3 separate regions of the Homo sapiens genome follow, and all the other regions are linked to region 2. The links come from fine-mapping of genetic effects on gene expression. A gene starts in region 2. Each other region holds a variant in brackets. All regions are shown on one strand. Distances are between the middles of the regions.

Evidence for each region. PIP is the estimated chance that this variant, and not a neighbour inherited with it, causes the effect. A credible set is the group of variants that fine-mapping cannot tell apart.
Region 1: its variant is the best candidate, but not a certain one, in a credible set for the expression of PFKFB3 in whole blood (TOPMed, PIP 0.82).
Region 3: its variant is the best candidate, but not a certain one, in a credible set for the expression of PFKFB3 in whole blood (TOPMed, PIP 0.51).

Annotation. Positions count from the first base shown.
Region 1 is chr10:6,264,699-6,268,851 of GRCh38, reverse strand. It overlaps a transcript of PFKFB3 not described here. Among named protein-coding and RNA genes, the nearest start is that of LINC02649, 60 kb to the left of the region's middle. The variant T/G (reference allele first, on the strand shown) is at 1,640.
Region 2 is chr10:6,200,880-6,205,032 of GRCh38, reverse strand. It overlaps PFKFB3 (6-phosphofructo-2-kinase/fructose-2,6-biphosphatase 3), which reads right to left and starts at 2,101. Exons shown (of 15, transcript NM_004566.4): 1 at 1,697-2,101. The coding sequence starts at 1,772. It overlaps PFKFB3-AS1 (PFKFB3 antisense RNA 1), which reads left to right and starts at 2,276. Exons shown (of 2, transcript XR_007062045.1): 1 at 2,276-2,593. RefSeq lists enhancers at 130-632, 2,372-2,876, 3,431-3,947, 3,948-4,153, silencers at 949-1,028, 1,259-1,768, 1,889-1,998, 2,049-2,378, 3,409-3,628 and a cis regulatory region at 1,907-2,438.
Region 3 is chr10:6,167,433-6,171,585 of GRCh38, reverse strand. It overlaps a transcript of PFKFB3 not described here. Among named protein-coding and RNA genes, the nearest start is that of MIR3155B, 17 kb to the right of the region's middle. The variant A/T (reference allele first, on the strand shown) is at 2,462.

The DNA.
Region 1 (4,153 bases), 64 kb before region 2:
CAGGGTTTTGCCAAGTTGCCTAGGCTGGTCTCGAACTCCTGGGCTCAAGCAATTGGCCTGTCTCAGCCTCTCAAAGTGCTGGGATTATAGGCATGAGCCACATCACCCAGCCTCTTTAACCTCTTTATGTTTGAAATTTGTGAATGTATGATCCAGTACAAAAAAAAAAGTTAACTAGTCTTTTTTATTAAATATATTTATATAATTTCTATTTATTTATTTATTTGGAGACGGAGTATCATTCTGTCACCCAGGCTGGAGTGCAGTGGCACAATCTTGGCTCACTGCAACCTCCACCTCCTGCGTTCGAGTGATTCTCCTGCCTCAGCCTCCTGAGTAGCTGGGATTACAGGTGCACGCAAACATCCCTGGCTAATTTTTGTATTTTTAGTAGAGATGGGGTTTCTCCATGTTGGCCAAGCTGGTCTCAAACTCCTGACCTCAAGTGCTGGGATTACAGGCATGAGCCACCGTGCCTAGCCTTATATAATTTTTATAATAGTATAGAAAAGCACCCCCAAAAAGGTTCCTAGCATGAGGCATAATAGCAGCCACTTGAATTAAAAACCCTCTACGCAATCTCCAAAAAGAAGTTTATCAAGAAGTACAAATAAGACACACATGCTTTCAGCATTACTGGGATACAGAGTAACTTCAAATGATGCCAAGAATTCCACACCTAATCTCAACATAACCACCTTAGGGGCTCTGCCTGTGGCTTCCAGACCATGGAAGTGGCGTGGGGGAGGGGAGACAGGAAAATCCTTGAAAAGCAGCGGACATGAGAACTGCTCCGTCGCACAGGGCCCCATGCTCAGGACACTACACATGGTTTAACACTGTCATTGCCAGCTTGAAATTCTTAGTAATTTGATTTTTTTTTTTTTTTTTTTTTTTGAGATAGGGTCTCGCTCTGTCACCCAGGCTGGAGTGCAGTGGCACCATCTCGGCTCACTGCAACCTCTGCCTCCCGGGTTCAAGCGATTCTCCTGCTTCAGCCTCCCGAGTAGCTGGGACTACAGGCGCCCGCCACCATGCCTGGCTAATTTTTGTATTTTTAGTAGAGACGGGGTTTCACCATGTTGGCCAGGCTGGTCTCGAACTCCTGACTTCAGGTGATCCGCCCGCCTCGGCCTCCCAAAATGCTGAGATTACAGGCATGAGCCACTGCACCCGGCCAGTAATTTGATCTTTGAACTGATGTTTGAGAAGTGAAGCTTGCTGCCTTGATGGCTGGGAATTCAGCAAGTGAGTAGAAGGGGCTGAAAGGAAGCGTGCTATGTCTACAAGTGAGTAAGTAAGAACGCCAACAGCCCCGAGACACCGCACTTTCTGTTTGACCCAGAACTTGCCCTGACTGCAGAAAGAAGGCAATGACGTTCTAAGAAACTCTAACCACTAAGGAGCCTCATCCTGACCTCCTACTTCCCTGTATTAGCCAAGTACACATGCTGAAGTGAGGAAAGGGAAAGCCAGTGAAACCCACAGTTCCTTCTCCTTTCAGACCTTCCTCACTCATTAGTACGTACGTCCAGGGTAGCCAGCAATGGCAGAACATGAGCGTTATCAAGCGGTGAATAAAAGCAGTGAGTTTGTTTTGTACAATATCTCCATTGTTCTCATAAGAACAAGATACATA[T/G]GCCTATACAAGCTGGGAAATACCAGTTGTGTGATTGTGGTGAACCCACTTATGAGTTAAATGCGCTTATGTTTGCATGTAAAATTGTCACTGCACAATATAAGGACGAACTGTAGAACTCATGCTAATAACTTGTTTCTTTATTTTGAATAACATTAAATAGCAAATTTTAAAAAACAACATGACAAGAGAAAAAAGGTGAAAGATTTATAATTTAGCACCTCTAAATTCTGCTTTTTTCTTTCACATAGTCCCCAAATTCCGCAGACAATCTTGCGTTACGCTGTCAATGCTGTGAGCCAGCATTCTCCCTGTGAGCATAATGGAGGCAAGGCCTGCTTCGCACGCATGAGACCAAGGCCATCATGCGGGGCCCCAGGTTTGGCAGGGACCCCTTGCCCTTTATTTGGGTTAATGCTCTGCTGTTGCTGTTTTGAAATACTGAATAAATTTTGAAAACGGAGTCCTACATTTTACTTGGACTCTGCAAAATATGTGGACAGTCCTGGGTGAAAGAAGAACATTTGCATTGAATTAGAATTGGAGATCTCAATATGAATGTATATTTCCAATAATACAACCATATATAGATATAGATACACACACATACATATTATAGTTATTGTATGGTTTTATTTACGCATATGTGAACACACACACATATTTATCCCAACTCTGGCCACTGAAACACCCTAGAAGCAATGACACCCACTGGCAATAACACAACTACAACCAGATCTAGGACCGAGGGCTTGTTAGAGACATCGACAGTCTTAGAGCTGAGACAGGGAAGGCACAAGATGAGCCTGGAGTATTGTACAGGCCTAGAAATCAACGACGTCCTCAAAGCAGAAGAGGAGAGCATGCCGAAGGATACAGGAGCCAGCCTGAAGATGCTCCTATGACCCAAATCTGGGACAATTTGAGTGTCAAAATAAATAAGGACACTATGGATTATAACTCATTAAATATAATAGGAATCAATGAATCCATAAAATAAACAGTCTCAAGCTCAGTGGCTCATGCCTGTAATCCCAACAATTTGAGAGGCCGAGGCAGAAGGATCACTTGAGCCCAAGAGTTTGAGACCAGCCTGGGCAACATAGTAAGGCCTTGTCTCTACAAAAAAATTTAAAATAACCAGGCGTGGGGCACAAGCCTATAGACCTAGCTACTCAGGAGGCTAAGGCAGGAGGATTCCTTGAGCGCAGGAGGTCAAGGCTGCAGTGAGCTATGATCATGCCACTGCACTCCCACCTACGTAACAGAACTAGACCCAGTCTCTAAAAAATGATAATAATAAATAGAAAAACAAAAAAAAAAATGAAGGACAAGAGAAGTCTCCTCCTGACAGCAGAATCCTGAACAATAAACACAGAAGGAGGGGGTGGAGCTGGAAAATTATGTTTCTGCAATCATTATAGCAAAGATTGGTTGAGACAAGAATCATCAGTGAAAGCTAAACTTAAAAAGAAATTTGGATGAGGAGTAGGATGTCTTCGTGGCACCAGTGTTTCCCCATAGATTGCTTATTAGCTCCAAGGGAGAAAATAGTAAATATACGGTGGAAAAATTGAACAATACCTTGGGCAGGTGGTCAAAATAATTACCCGCAAGAGGCAGGTGGGGTGACAGGCCTTCATAGGTGATACCCCAAGAGACACAACATGACTTCCATAATATTCTAGCCAGGGATGTATAGCCTAAACATAATAGTGGAGAAACATGAGACAAAATCAAATTGAGAAACATTTGATAAAATAACTGGCTTGTATTCTTCAAAATTGTCAATATCATGAAAAACAAAAAGCTTAAGAAACTATACCAAATTAGGTGAGGGGCGGTGGCTCATGCCTGTAATCCCAGCACTTTGGGAGGTTGAGGCAGGCAGATCACATGAGGCCAGGAGTTTGAGACCAGCCTGGCCAACATGGTGAAACCCCGCCTCTACTAAAAATACAAAAATTAGCCGAGCATGGTGGCATGCACCTGTAGTCCCAGCTACTCGGGAGGCTGAGGCAGGAGAATCGCTTGAACCCGGGAGGTGGAGGTTGCAGTGAGCCGAGATGGCGCCACTGCACTCCAGCCTGGGTGACAGAGTTAGACTCCATCTCAAAAAAAAAAAAAAAATGAAAGAAAAAGAAACTATGCCAAGTTAAAGAAAACTAACACAAATTGACAACTAAATGCAGTAGGTGTCTCTGAATGAGACCGTGTACCTCCAGGGAAACAATGCTAGAAAGGACATCATTAAGATGATCGATGACTTGGAAGATAGACTACATTATATACAAGTATTCTATCAAGGTCAAATTTTCTGAATTTGGTAACTATACCATGGTTATATGAGAGACTCTCTTTGTTCTTACAAAACACACACTGAAATATAAAGGAGTAAAGGAGCCTGATTTATGCAATCTACTCTCAGATTATTAAGGAAAAGATGGAAAATAAAAATAACATACACGTATAGAGAGAATGAAAAAGAAAGAGGGAAACAGAATAAACAAGTGA
Region 2 (4,153 bases):
CAGGTTGATGGGGTCTAATGGATCAGGATCCAAGCCTGGAGGGAGGACGCCTTGGTGCACGCTGGAGTTCTCAAGATCACAACTGAGCTGATGCCAACAGATCTCAGAGCCCTGGAAGTCACGGGACACTCCTCTCAGACCCGTGGGCATTCGTATACAATCACATGTATTTACATATGTGGGACTAGCCTCCAATGCAGTTTACAAAGTGCTATAGAGATAATACTTGCTTTATGCAAAAGTTGTTTCTGCATTTGGCCTTGGCCAAACCTCCCTGGGGATTTAAGAGCTGCATTCCACTCCACTTACAGGTTTTACACAAAGACAAGAGAACCATGGGCCACCCCAGTTCAAGCGCATCTGACTGGGCTGGGCAACACACCCACATCCCCCAGTCCTGGGCTACCTCACAAAGAGGGGGAACAAGACCTCTCCTGAGGGCTACCCCAGAACCCTGAAGTCCACCAGGGTGGATCTGCTGACGTCCCCACCCAGGGCACACCATGGGGGTGGGTGTGGGGAGAGGGGCAGGTCTGGACGAGGCCGGTGATTCAGACCGAGCAGGGCTCCAGGAGAGCTGCCAAGTCCCGCGGGGGCCGTCCTAAGAAACGTAGTAGCCGGGCAACCCTGCCTGCCAGCCGCCTGCGCTCAGGCGCCTTCGGATGACCCGAAGCCACCTCGAGAGTTTGCACCTGGATCCCACGGTCACTACTCAGGCTACGACCTGACCTGGGCAAAACCGCACCAGGCGGCTCCCTGTCCAGCCCATGGGAGCCGGGGCGCATTACCTGGAGAGGCAGCGTCGCCCCTCTGCGCTGCCCACCCGCCCTTTTCCGCGGCGGCGCTCCGCAGCTGAGGTGGAGCTCGAGGTAACCCTCTCCCAAGCGATCGCTGGTGGCGGGGGCGGCGACCGGCGGGGCGGGGCAGGGTACTGCCAGCCAATTCCGAGCACCGGGGGGTGCGTGCGCCCGGGGCGCGTGGAGCAGCGCCAACCGTGCACTCACCAACCCACCGACCCTCCCCAAAGCCGGGGACACAGGCGTGGCTCCAGGTGGCTCTCCTGGCGCCCCCAGCACGGGCGCCCCCATGGCACTGGAGATGCACGGAAGAGAGAGAAGGAGAGAGAAAGAGATAAAAGCAGAAAGAAACAGTGGGAGAGGAAGGAGGTAGAAACAGAGAAAAACAGAGACATATATATCGAAAGAGAAAACAGGACAGAGAAATAGGTTATTAAGTGAAGCGAGGGGATAGGAATGCATAGCAAGGCGGGAGAGGAGATGGAAACATGCAGAGAGAGGAGATCCGGACGGTGAAAAGGGGCGGAGGCGCGAGCGGCCGGGTCCCTGGGCTGCGCTCCGGCGACGGCCGCCCGAGACGGGTGTCGAGGACAGGGATCGCGGAGGATGTGGATCCCCTCCCTGGCCTGCCCAGGCGCGCGCGTCCCTCCGTCTCGGGGTACGCAGCCCGGCCGGGCGCACTCGCCGTTTCCGGGCCGGCGGGGCAGCCACCGGGACAAGGGCCACAGCGCCCCCGCCGCCCGGCCAAGGACGCGCAGCCCGCGCCTCCGCCCCGCCCCGCCGGCGCGACCCGCACGGGCGCGCCCCCCGCAGAGGGGCGTCGGCACAAAGCCGCCCCACACAATGGCCCGGCCCGGCGCAGCCCGCCCTGCAACCCGGCTCCGCGCAGCTGCACTCACATCTGGGCAACGAGGGCCTGTGGTCCACGGGCACCCAGATCTTCTGCACTCGGCTCTGCGTCAGTTCCAACGGCATCTTCGCGGCTGCGCCCGACGGCCCGCCTCCCGGGGCCGAGATCCCGACGCTGGCAGGAGAGCGGCCGCCGACCCCCGGAACAAAGGAGGAGAGGGGGGCGTGCGCCGGCGCGCGGCCGGGCGTTTCCTGCGCTGCCAGGGGAAACGTGCTTTGGGCTAAGTTCCGGACCCTCGCCTGTGCGGGGCTCGACGTGTGCTGCGAGGGTAGCGAGGCTGGGGATGCCCGGCACGGCCGGCTCGTCCGCTCGGAAAGCTCTGGGATGCTCGGGCGCAGTGACAGCCGCGCTCTCGCCACCAGGCCCTGCTGCTCGCCTCCTCTCCGGCTTGGCTGGGATGCCCCGCGCACCGCCGGCTTTTAAAGAGTCCGGGCTGGCCGCAGACGCGTACGTCAGCCTCGGGGCGGGCCGCATTCCTTGGGTCCCAGCCCCCTTCCACGTGGGGAGGAGGGTGGGCGAGCCGGGAAGCAGCCTGCGAGCTCCCCCTGCGGGCCGGCGACGGCGGTGCACCAGCTCCCGCCGCCCTGCCCCGGGCCTGGAGCGCGCCCAGCCCTGCTGAAGGGTCCTGGCTGCTGTTATCCCCTCGTCCCGTTGTCCCCTCGGGACGTCTGGCACAGCTTCCCCGACTAATTCCGGCCCCTCACCTCAACTGTGCTGGCCGGGAGGAGAGCAGAGACGCAGTCCTGCCCAGTGTAGACCGTGGACCCCGCAGCCGAATCCCTTGGGAAGCTGCTTAAAGTGCATCCTACCAATGCAGCTCCTTTAGGGCCATGGAGCCCCAATACTCTGCATTCCTAACACGCGCTGTGGGGCAGGCGCAGTCCAGGTAAGGACATGGGCCAGGCTGCTCCCTGATAATACCCGTGAGCCCATCCCCCGCCACGACCCGGGCGACCCGCGGGGAGGAGGCTTCCCTGATCCTCCCACCTCACCTCGTCCTTGTCCACTTTGCTGAATCCCTTAGAAACCTGGACTTGAACTGAGCCTTGCTCCCCTCCCCTAGCCCAAAGACTGGGAACCTTGAGAGGCCCGCGGTGCTGGGTACGAGGAGGGGGCGGGAAAGCCCCGGGGAGCTGGACTGAAGTGGACTGGGGCTGGGGGCAGCTGGCATCTGGTTTTCACACTCACCATGTACACCATTCAATAAACCTTTATCGCCCCGAGTAGAAGAATGAATAAAACTAGACCCATTTCGATCTGCAATTCATTACCTAAGTCGAGGGAAAACTATTGGGGGCGGCCCCTTATTAGGCAGACTCCTAAAATTCACTCCGTTATCCTGCACACCCTGCAGCTCTGCCTCCCCACTTTTTGGTGCATGCGTGCCCCGTCTCCTTTCCCGGCCCTCGCAGTTTGCACCAGCTCGCGACTTGTGACAGTCGTGCAGTCAGGTCAGAGGCGTGCGGGGAAGATCTGGGTTGCTTTTGGTGGGGAACCGCCGCCCGCGCCGGGACGGATGTAACTTTTGCAAACGAAGCCTCAGTACGGGAGCGCTGCGCCGCCTTGCAGAGAGGTGCACACTTAGCGCTGAGGCTGGGCTGTGATTGGAGGGAAGGCGGCGCTCGCTGAAACCTACACCGCGGCGGAAAAGTCTGCGCAGAGGCTGCCACACGTCGCTCACGTCCCGCATGCTCCACAGGGAGGGCGCCCGCGCCCAGGCGGCGACCGGGGCTGCTCCCGCCCCGCGCGCCCGCCCCACCCGGGCCTCCACTCCTCCCGACCCGCCGCCTGCCGAGGGGCCCCGGAACGCGCAACATCGGCCACCTGGCCTGTGCCCCGCCACCCTCCCCCACGCCTCGACCCCCACTCCCCCTCCCGCCTCGACCCCCACTCCGGCACCCCGCCCCCCGCGCCGCCCTCTCAGAGCCCCTGTTCCCGCGACAGCTTTGCTGACGGTCTGGTTTCCGCGCTCTGGCGGCTGTTCAGAAACCCGATGCGTTGCATTTGGACTTGTTTTCTGCAGTGGGAGCACATGCCAGAGGCGACACCCTAAACGCCCAGGGGAGAGTCCCACTCCACTCCTGAAATAAGAGTGGGCTGACCCGAAGAGGGAAACAGCAGGCAGCGAGCGCCCGCGCCACCGGGACGAGTTCCCGCCCTGGGGTTCGCGGGGGTCGGGGAGGGCTGTAGGCTGCGCGCGGGGAGAGCGGCTGCACCCCTGCAAAGAGCGCCCGCGGTTCCTGGGGAATGACGGTGCACCTGCGCGCCCGCTGCTTGCCCACCGATTTTGCACACGTACAGGCGAGGCAAGCGGACCAGGGGGCCTTCTTCCACACTCCCTACAAGCTTGCAAACACTGCTGGTTTCAGCTCACAGGGAGAGCAGAGAGACGGCGTCTGCCCCAGCAGCGGCACATCATTCATCTCTTGACCTAGATAACGCATCT
Region 3 (4,153 bases), 33 kb after region 2:
CCTCATCTCTACAAAAAATAAAATTAGCCGAGTGTGGCAGCACACGCCTATAGTCCCAGCTTCTTGGGAGGCTGAGCCGGGAGGATTCCTTGAGCCCAGGAGGTTGAGACTGCAGTGAGCCAAGATCGCGCCACTGCACTTCAACCCGAGCAACAGAACGAGACAGTCTCCAAAAAAAAAAAAAAGAAAGAAAGAACAATTTTAAAAGATGAGTTAAAAATAGAGAAGAAGGGCCGGGCCCGGTGGCTTACGTCTGTAATCCCAGCACTTTGGGAGGCTGAGGCGGGTGGATCACCTGAGGTCGGGAGTTCAAGACTAGCCTGACCAACATGGAGAAATCCCGTCTCTACTAAAAATACAAAATTAGCCAGGCGTGGTGGCATGGTGGTGCATGCCTGTAATCCCAGCTACTCGGGAGGCTGGGGCAGGAGAATCACTTGCACCCGGGAGACGGAGGTTGCGGTGAGCCAAGAACACGCCATTGCACCATTGCACCACTGCACTCCAGCCTGGGCAACAAGAGCGAAACTCCGTCTCATAAAAAAATAATAATAATAAAATAGAGAAGAAAGACTTTGTAATATTTCCTTCCTGCACGGAGTAATCCTTTTGCCCTAAGGAAGGGCCTGAGGGTATCCTGTCTTCCCAGCTGCTGGATTAGGCAGATTTCCCCTGGGGACCTGTCATCTTCCTCTTCCTGAGCTTTTCTTTTTTTTTTAACCTTTAATCTCTTTGGACTTTATCCTTGGGCTTTTCTGAAAGCACTTTCTGTCCAGCCCTTGCTGTCACCCAGCCAAACCTAGCTCCTCACAGCCCCCAGCAGCTTTCCTGCTCTGCTCAGCCACCGCCTCCACCTCCATACATTGTCTCCACCTCCATACCCTGTCCCCACCTCCATACTGTCCTCACCTCCACACTGTCCCCACCCTCTACTTTTGCTCCCTCTACTTTTGCTCCTGGTCTTTCCATTTGCACCTCAATGACCCCATGGATTTTTGTGGTTGAAAGTTTCTAGTCTGGTTTAAATATACTTTTTAAATTTTTTGTAGGAAGGAGGTCTATGTGGCCCAGGCCAGTCTCAAACTCCTGGCCTCAGGCAATCCTCCTTCCCAAAGTGCTGGGATTACAGGCATGCACCACTGCACCCTGCTGTAGTCCAGTTTATATTTTCGTCTTCTATATTTCATTTCTTAGAGGAACAAGAAAGAAAACATAAAGGAGGGGTGGGGGAACGAGTGAGTCTAGAAGGTGGGTTTCTTTAATGTTGAAGCAATTAGCGTTCTCTCTCGTTTCTAGATTACCAAACAATCCAAAAAGTTGCCCAGGATAAAGTGACTAGTCAAGCTATGGAGGCTTTAAATTGCTTCTAGACACACCATCACCTCTGTTTGGGGATTAAATATCTATTTCCAGAGTTCTGGTTAATGGTAAACAAGGTTCTTTTGCTTAAAAGGAAAACCATCGTCTTCATTAAAGAACCACGGGGTGGGCCCAGGCATGTCCTCCCACCCCCACTTCAAAATAACCACAAACAGAAGTCCCAGAAATTCAATGCAAAAGAGGGTCCCAAAATGTGACTAATTTAAGGGAACTGCAAATAGGCAAGAGGAAAAGTAAAGCCTTTCCAGAGAGCAAGGCCAGTGCACTCCCAATGTTTCAATCTTCTCAGTGTCCTAGACCCAGAACCAAAAGGAACCTGGGAAAGGTTTAAGGAAATACACATCCAAGACATAACAATGTTAGGGAAACATAAAACCGGGAGCCAGGCAGAAGCCAGTCCTTCCTCGGTGCTCAGACCCTCCTGGCCACTCCCATATATAGAGCTCAGGGCTGGGATTTCACCCTGGGACATAAACATTTAGAGAGTTCCAAATTCTGAGTGACTTTTAGATTCCACATGTTTGTAAGCCTCTAGAGAGCCCAGGATACATCACCGAATTCTTAAGCAGTACTGGACGCACTCTTCCTGTTCCTCAGCCACCCGCCTTCACCATCAGCGCAGCAAGTTCATACCCATCTTATCCCAGGAGAACCCTCAGGGCCTGGGGAACAGACACAATGGCCCAAGATCACAGTCAAATATCCTGGAGGAAGTGGGTCTACTCTGCATTTATGGGTGACGCCAGTCTCCTACCCACACCCCGACAACTCCATGGTGGCCCAGGTCTGAGCATTCGTGCCCCTTGCTCACTAAAATTAAGACCCCCTACCCTGCTCACAGCCGCCAGAGTCCCAATCACAATCCTCCCTGCGTAAGACTAAGAAAAGAACAGAAAATGTGCTCTCCCCCAGGTAGGTGCACCTGCCACCCAAGCAGATGCACTGTGACAAGAAAATATAAGAAGACTGGGCGCGGTGGCTCACGCCTGTAATCCCAGCACTTTGGGAGGCTGAGGCGGGGGGATCACTTGAGGTCAAGAGTTCGAGACCATCCTGGCCAACATGGCAAGACCCCGTCTCT[A/T]CTAAAAATACAAAAAATTTGCCGGGCGTGGTGGCACATGCCTGTAGCCCCAGCTACTTGGGAGGCTGAGGCAAGATAATTGCTTGAACCAGGGGGAGGTTGCAGTGACCAGTGCACTCCAGCCTGGGTGACAGAGCGAGACTCTGGCTCAAAAAGAGAAAGCATAAGGAGTGGGGACTTTTAGATAACTTTTCGGGGGGCAGACGGGAGAGGCATTCAACGAAGGACCACTTTAGGAGGTTGTCTGGGCAGATGGATTCCGTGAAGTGCTTTGAATGTAAGTCAGACCACTGGGGCTGCCTCGCTCCTGTCGCGCACATTCACCCACATCCATCCCCAGGCCTGAATGTAAGGGCTCAAACAGACCTGCAAATACACTCGGCACCTGCGAGTGGGCAGCTGCTGTGCAGACCACCCCATCCCATTTTCTGGTCCGTTAAACTCATGCATAATGGTCGTAGCAATGGCCAAGTTGTCATTGCTGGGCAGAAAGTTCCTTTAAGACAGGAATAATAAGGCCCACTTAGGAAGCACTCTGGATTGTAATAGGGTTTCCAGTGGCCACCAGCAGGGTGGCATCCTGATTTTCTACCAGGCCATGTAGAAGCCTTTTGTGCTTAGCTGCTCGTGTTAATCCTCACAACTGCATAAGGCTGACACATCAGGGAACTGAAGCACAGAGATGTTTGGGAAATTCTCCAAGGTCACACAGCTACTCAGTGGTGGAGGTGGCATCAGAACCCAGGAAGGCTGACTGAAGCCACCGTTCTGCCTCGCTCACTGGCATCCTCAGCCTCCAGCCTGAGGCAGGACATTCTAGGACAGCTGATGAATACAAGCATGGTCAGTGTGGGTGGCCAGGGCCCTCGCTCAGCAAGTGGGAGCAAAGTGGAGGATTCCAGGACTCACTACCTCATGATCTTCCACCAGCCTCCCACTACCTCTAGTCACCCCTACCTAAGCTGCCCCTCTGTATGAAAATGCTGGGGTTGGAGAGTGGGGCAGGCTAGGGAAAGAAGACAATGTGATTTAACCTGTCCCTAAATGGTTAGATAGCATCTCTGGAGTTAAAGATCTCAGCTATCAGTTAAAATGCAAACTGAGCTACTATCTGTCATTTAGAGATGACGCAGATGAAGAAGCTGAGGATGTGACCTAGAAAAAAGCAGGAACGACCTAGGGACTTAGCAAGGGACAAAGGACCAGAAACAGGCAAAGAGAAACAAAATTTAACCTTCTCTACAGTGTCGCTTAGGGCTGGGCTGGCTATCTCCATAGATATCCAATTCCTTAACACCTAAGGGCGTAGGAGAGGAATGAGACCAAGGTTTAGGATGAATAATCTAGGAAATCCCTTGAAAGGAAGAAAAGAGGATCATCAGAGACATCTTCTGGAGCTCCACAAACTGCTCAGAGCAGAGAGGCCACCAGATACGAATGCTGCCTCAGATAATCCAATGGAGGAAGAGGGTTTGGCTGGTATTTTCTGGCTGAGTTCTTGATAAGAAACTGTAATCACATCTGCTAGCTAGGGATCCAAGAAAAACAAGATATTGTCTCTTTATACACATTCCACAGCCCCTACCTTCTCTCAAGAGATGTTAAAATGGCTTAAAATGTGTTAAAATGTGACAATTTAATAAATGTGGCAGAAACAAAAAAGAGACTCCTAAAGTATTCCTCTCTTCAGAG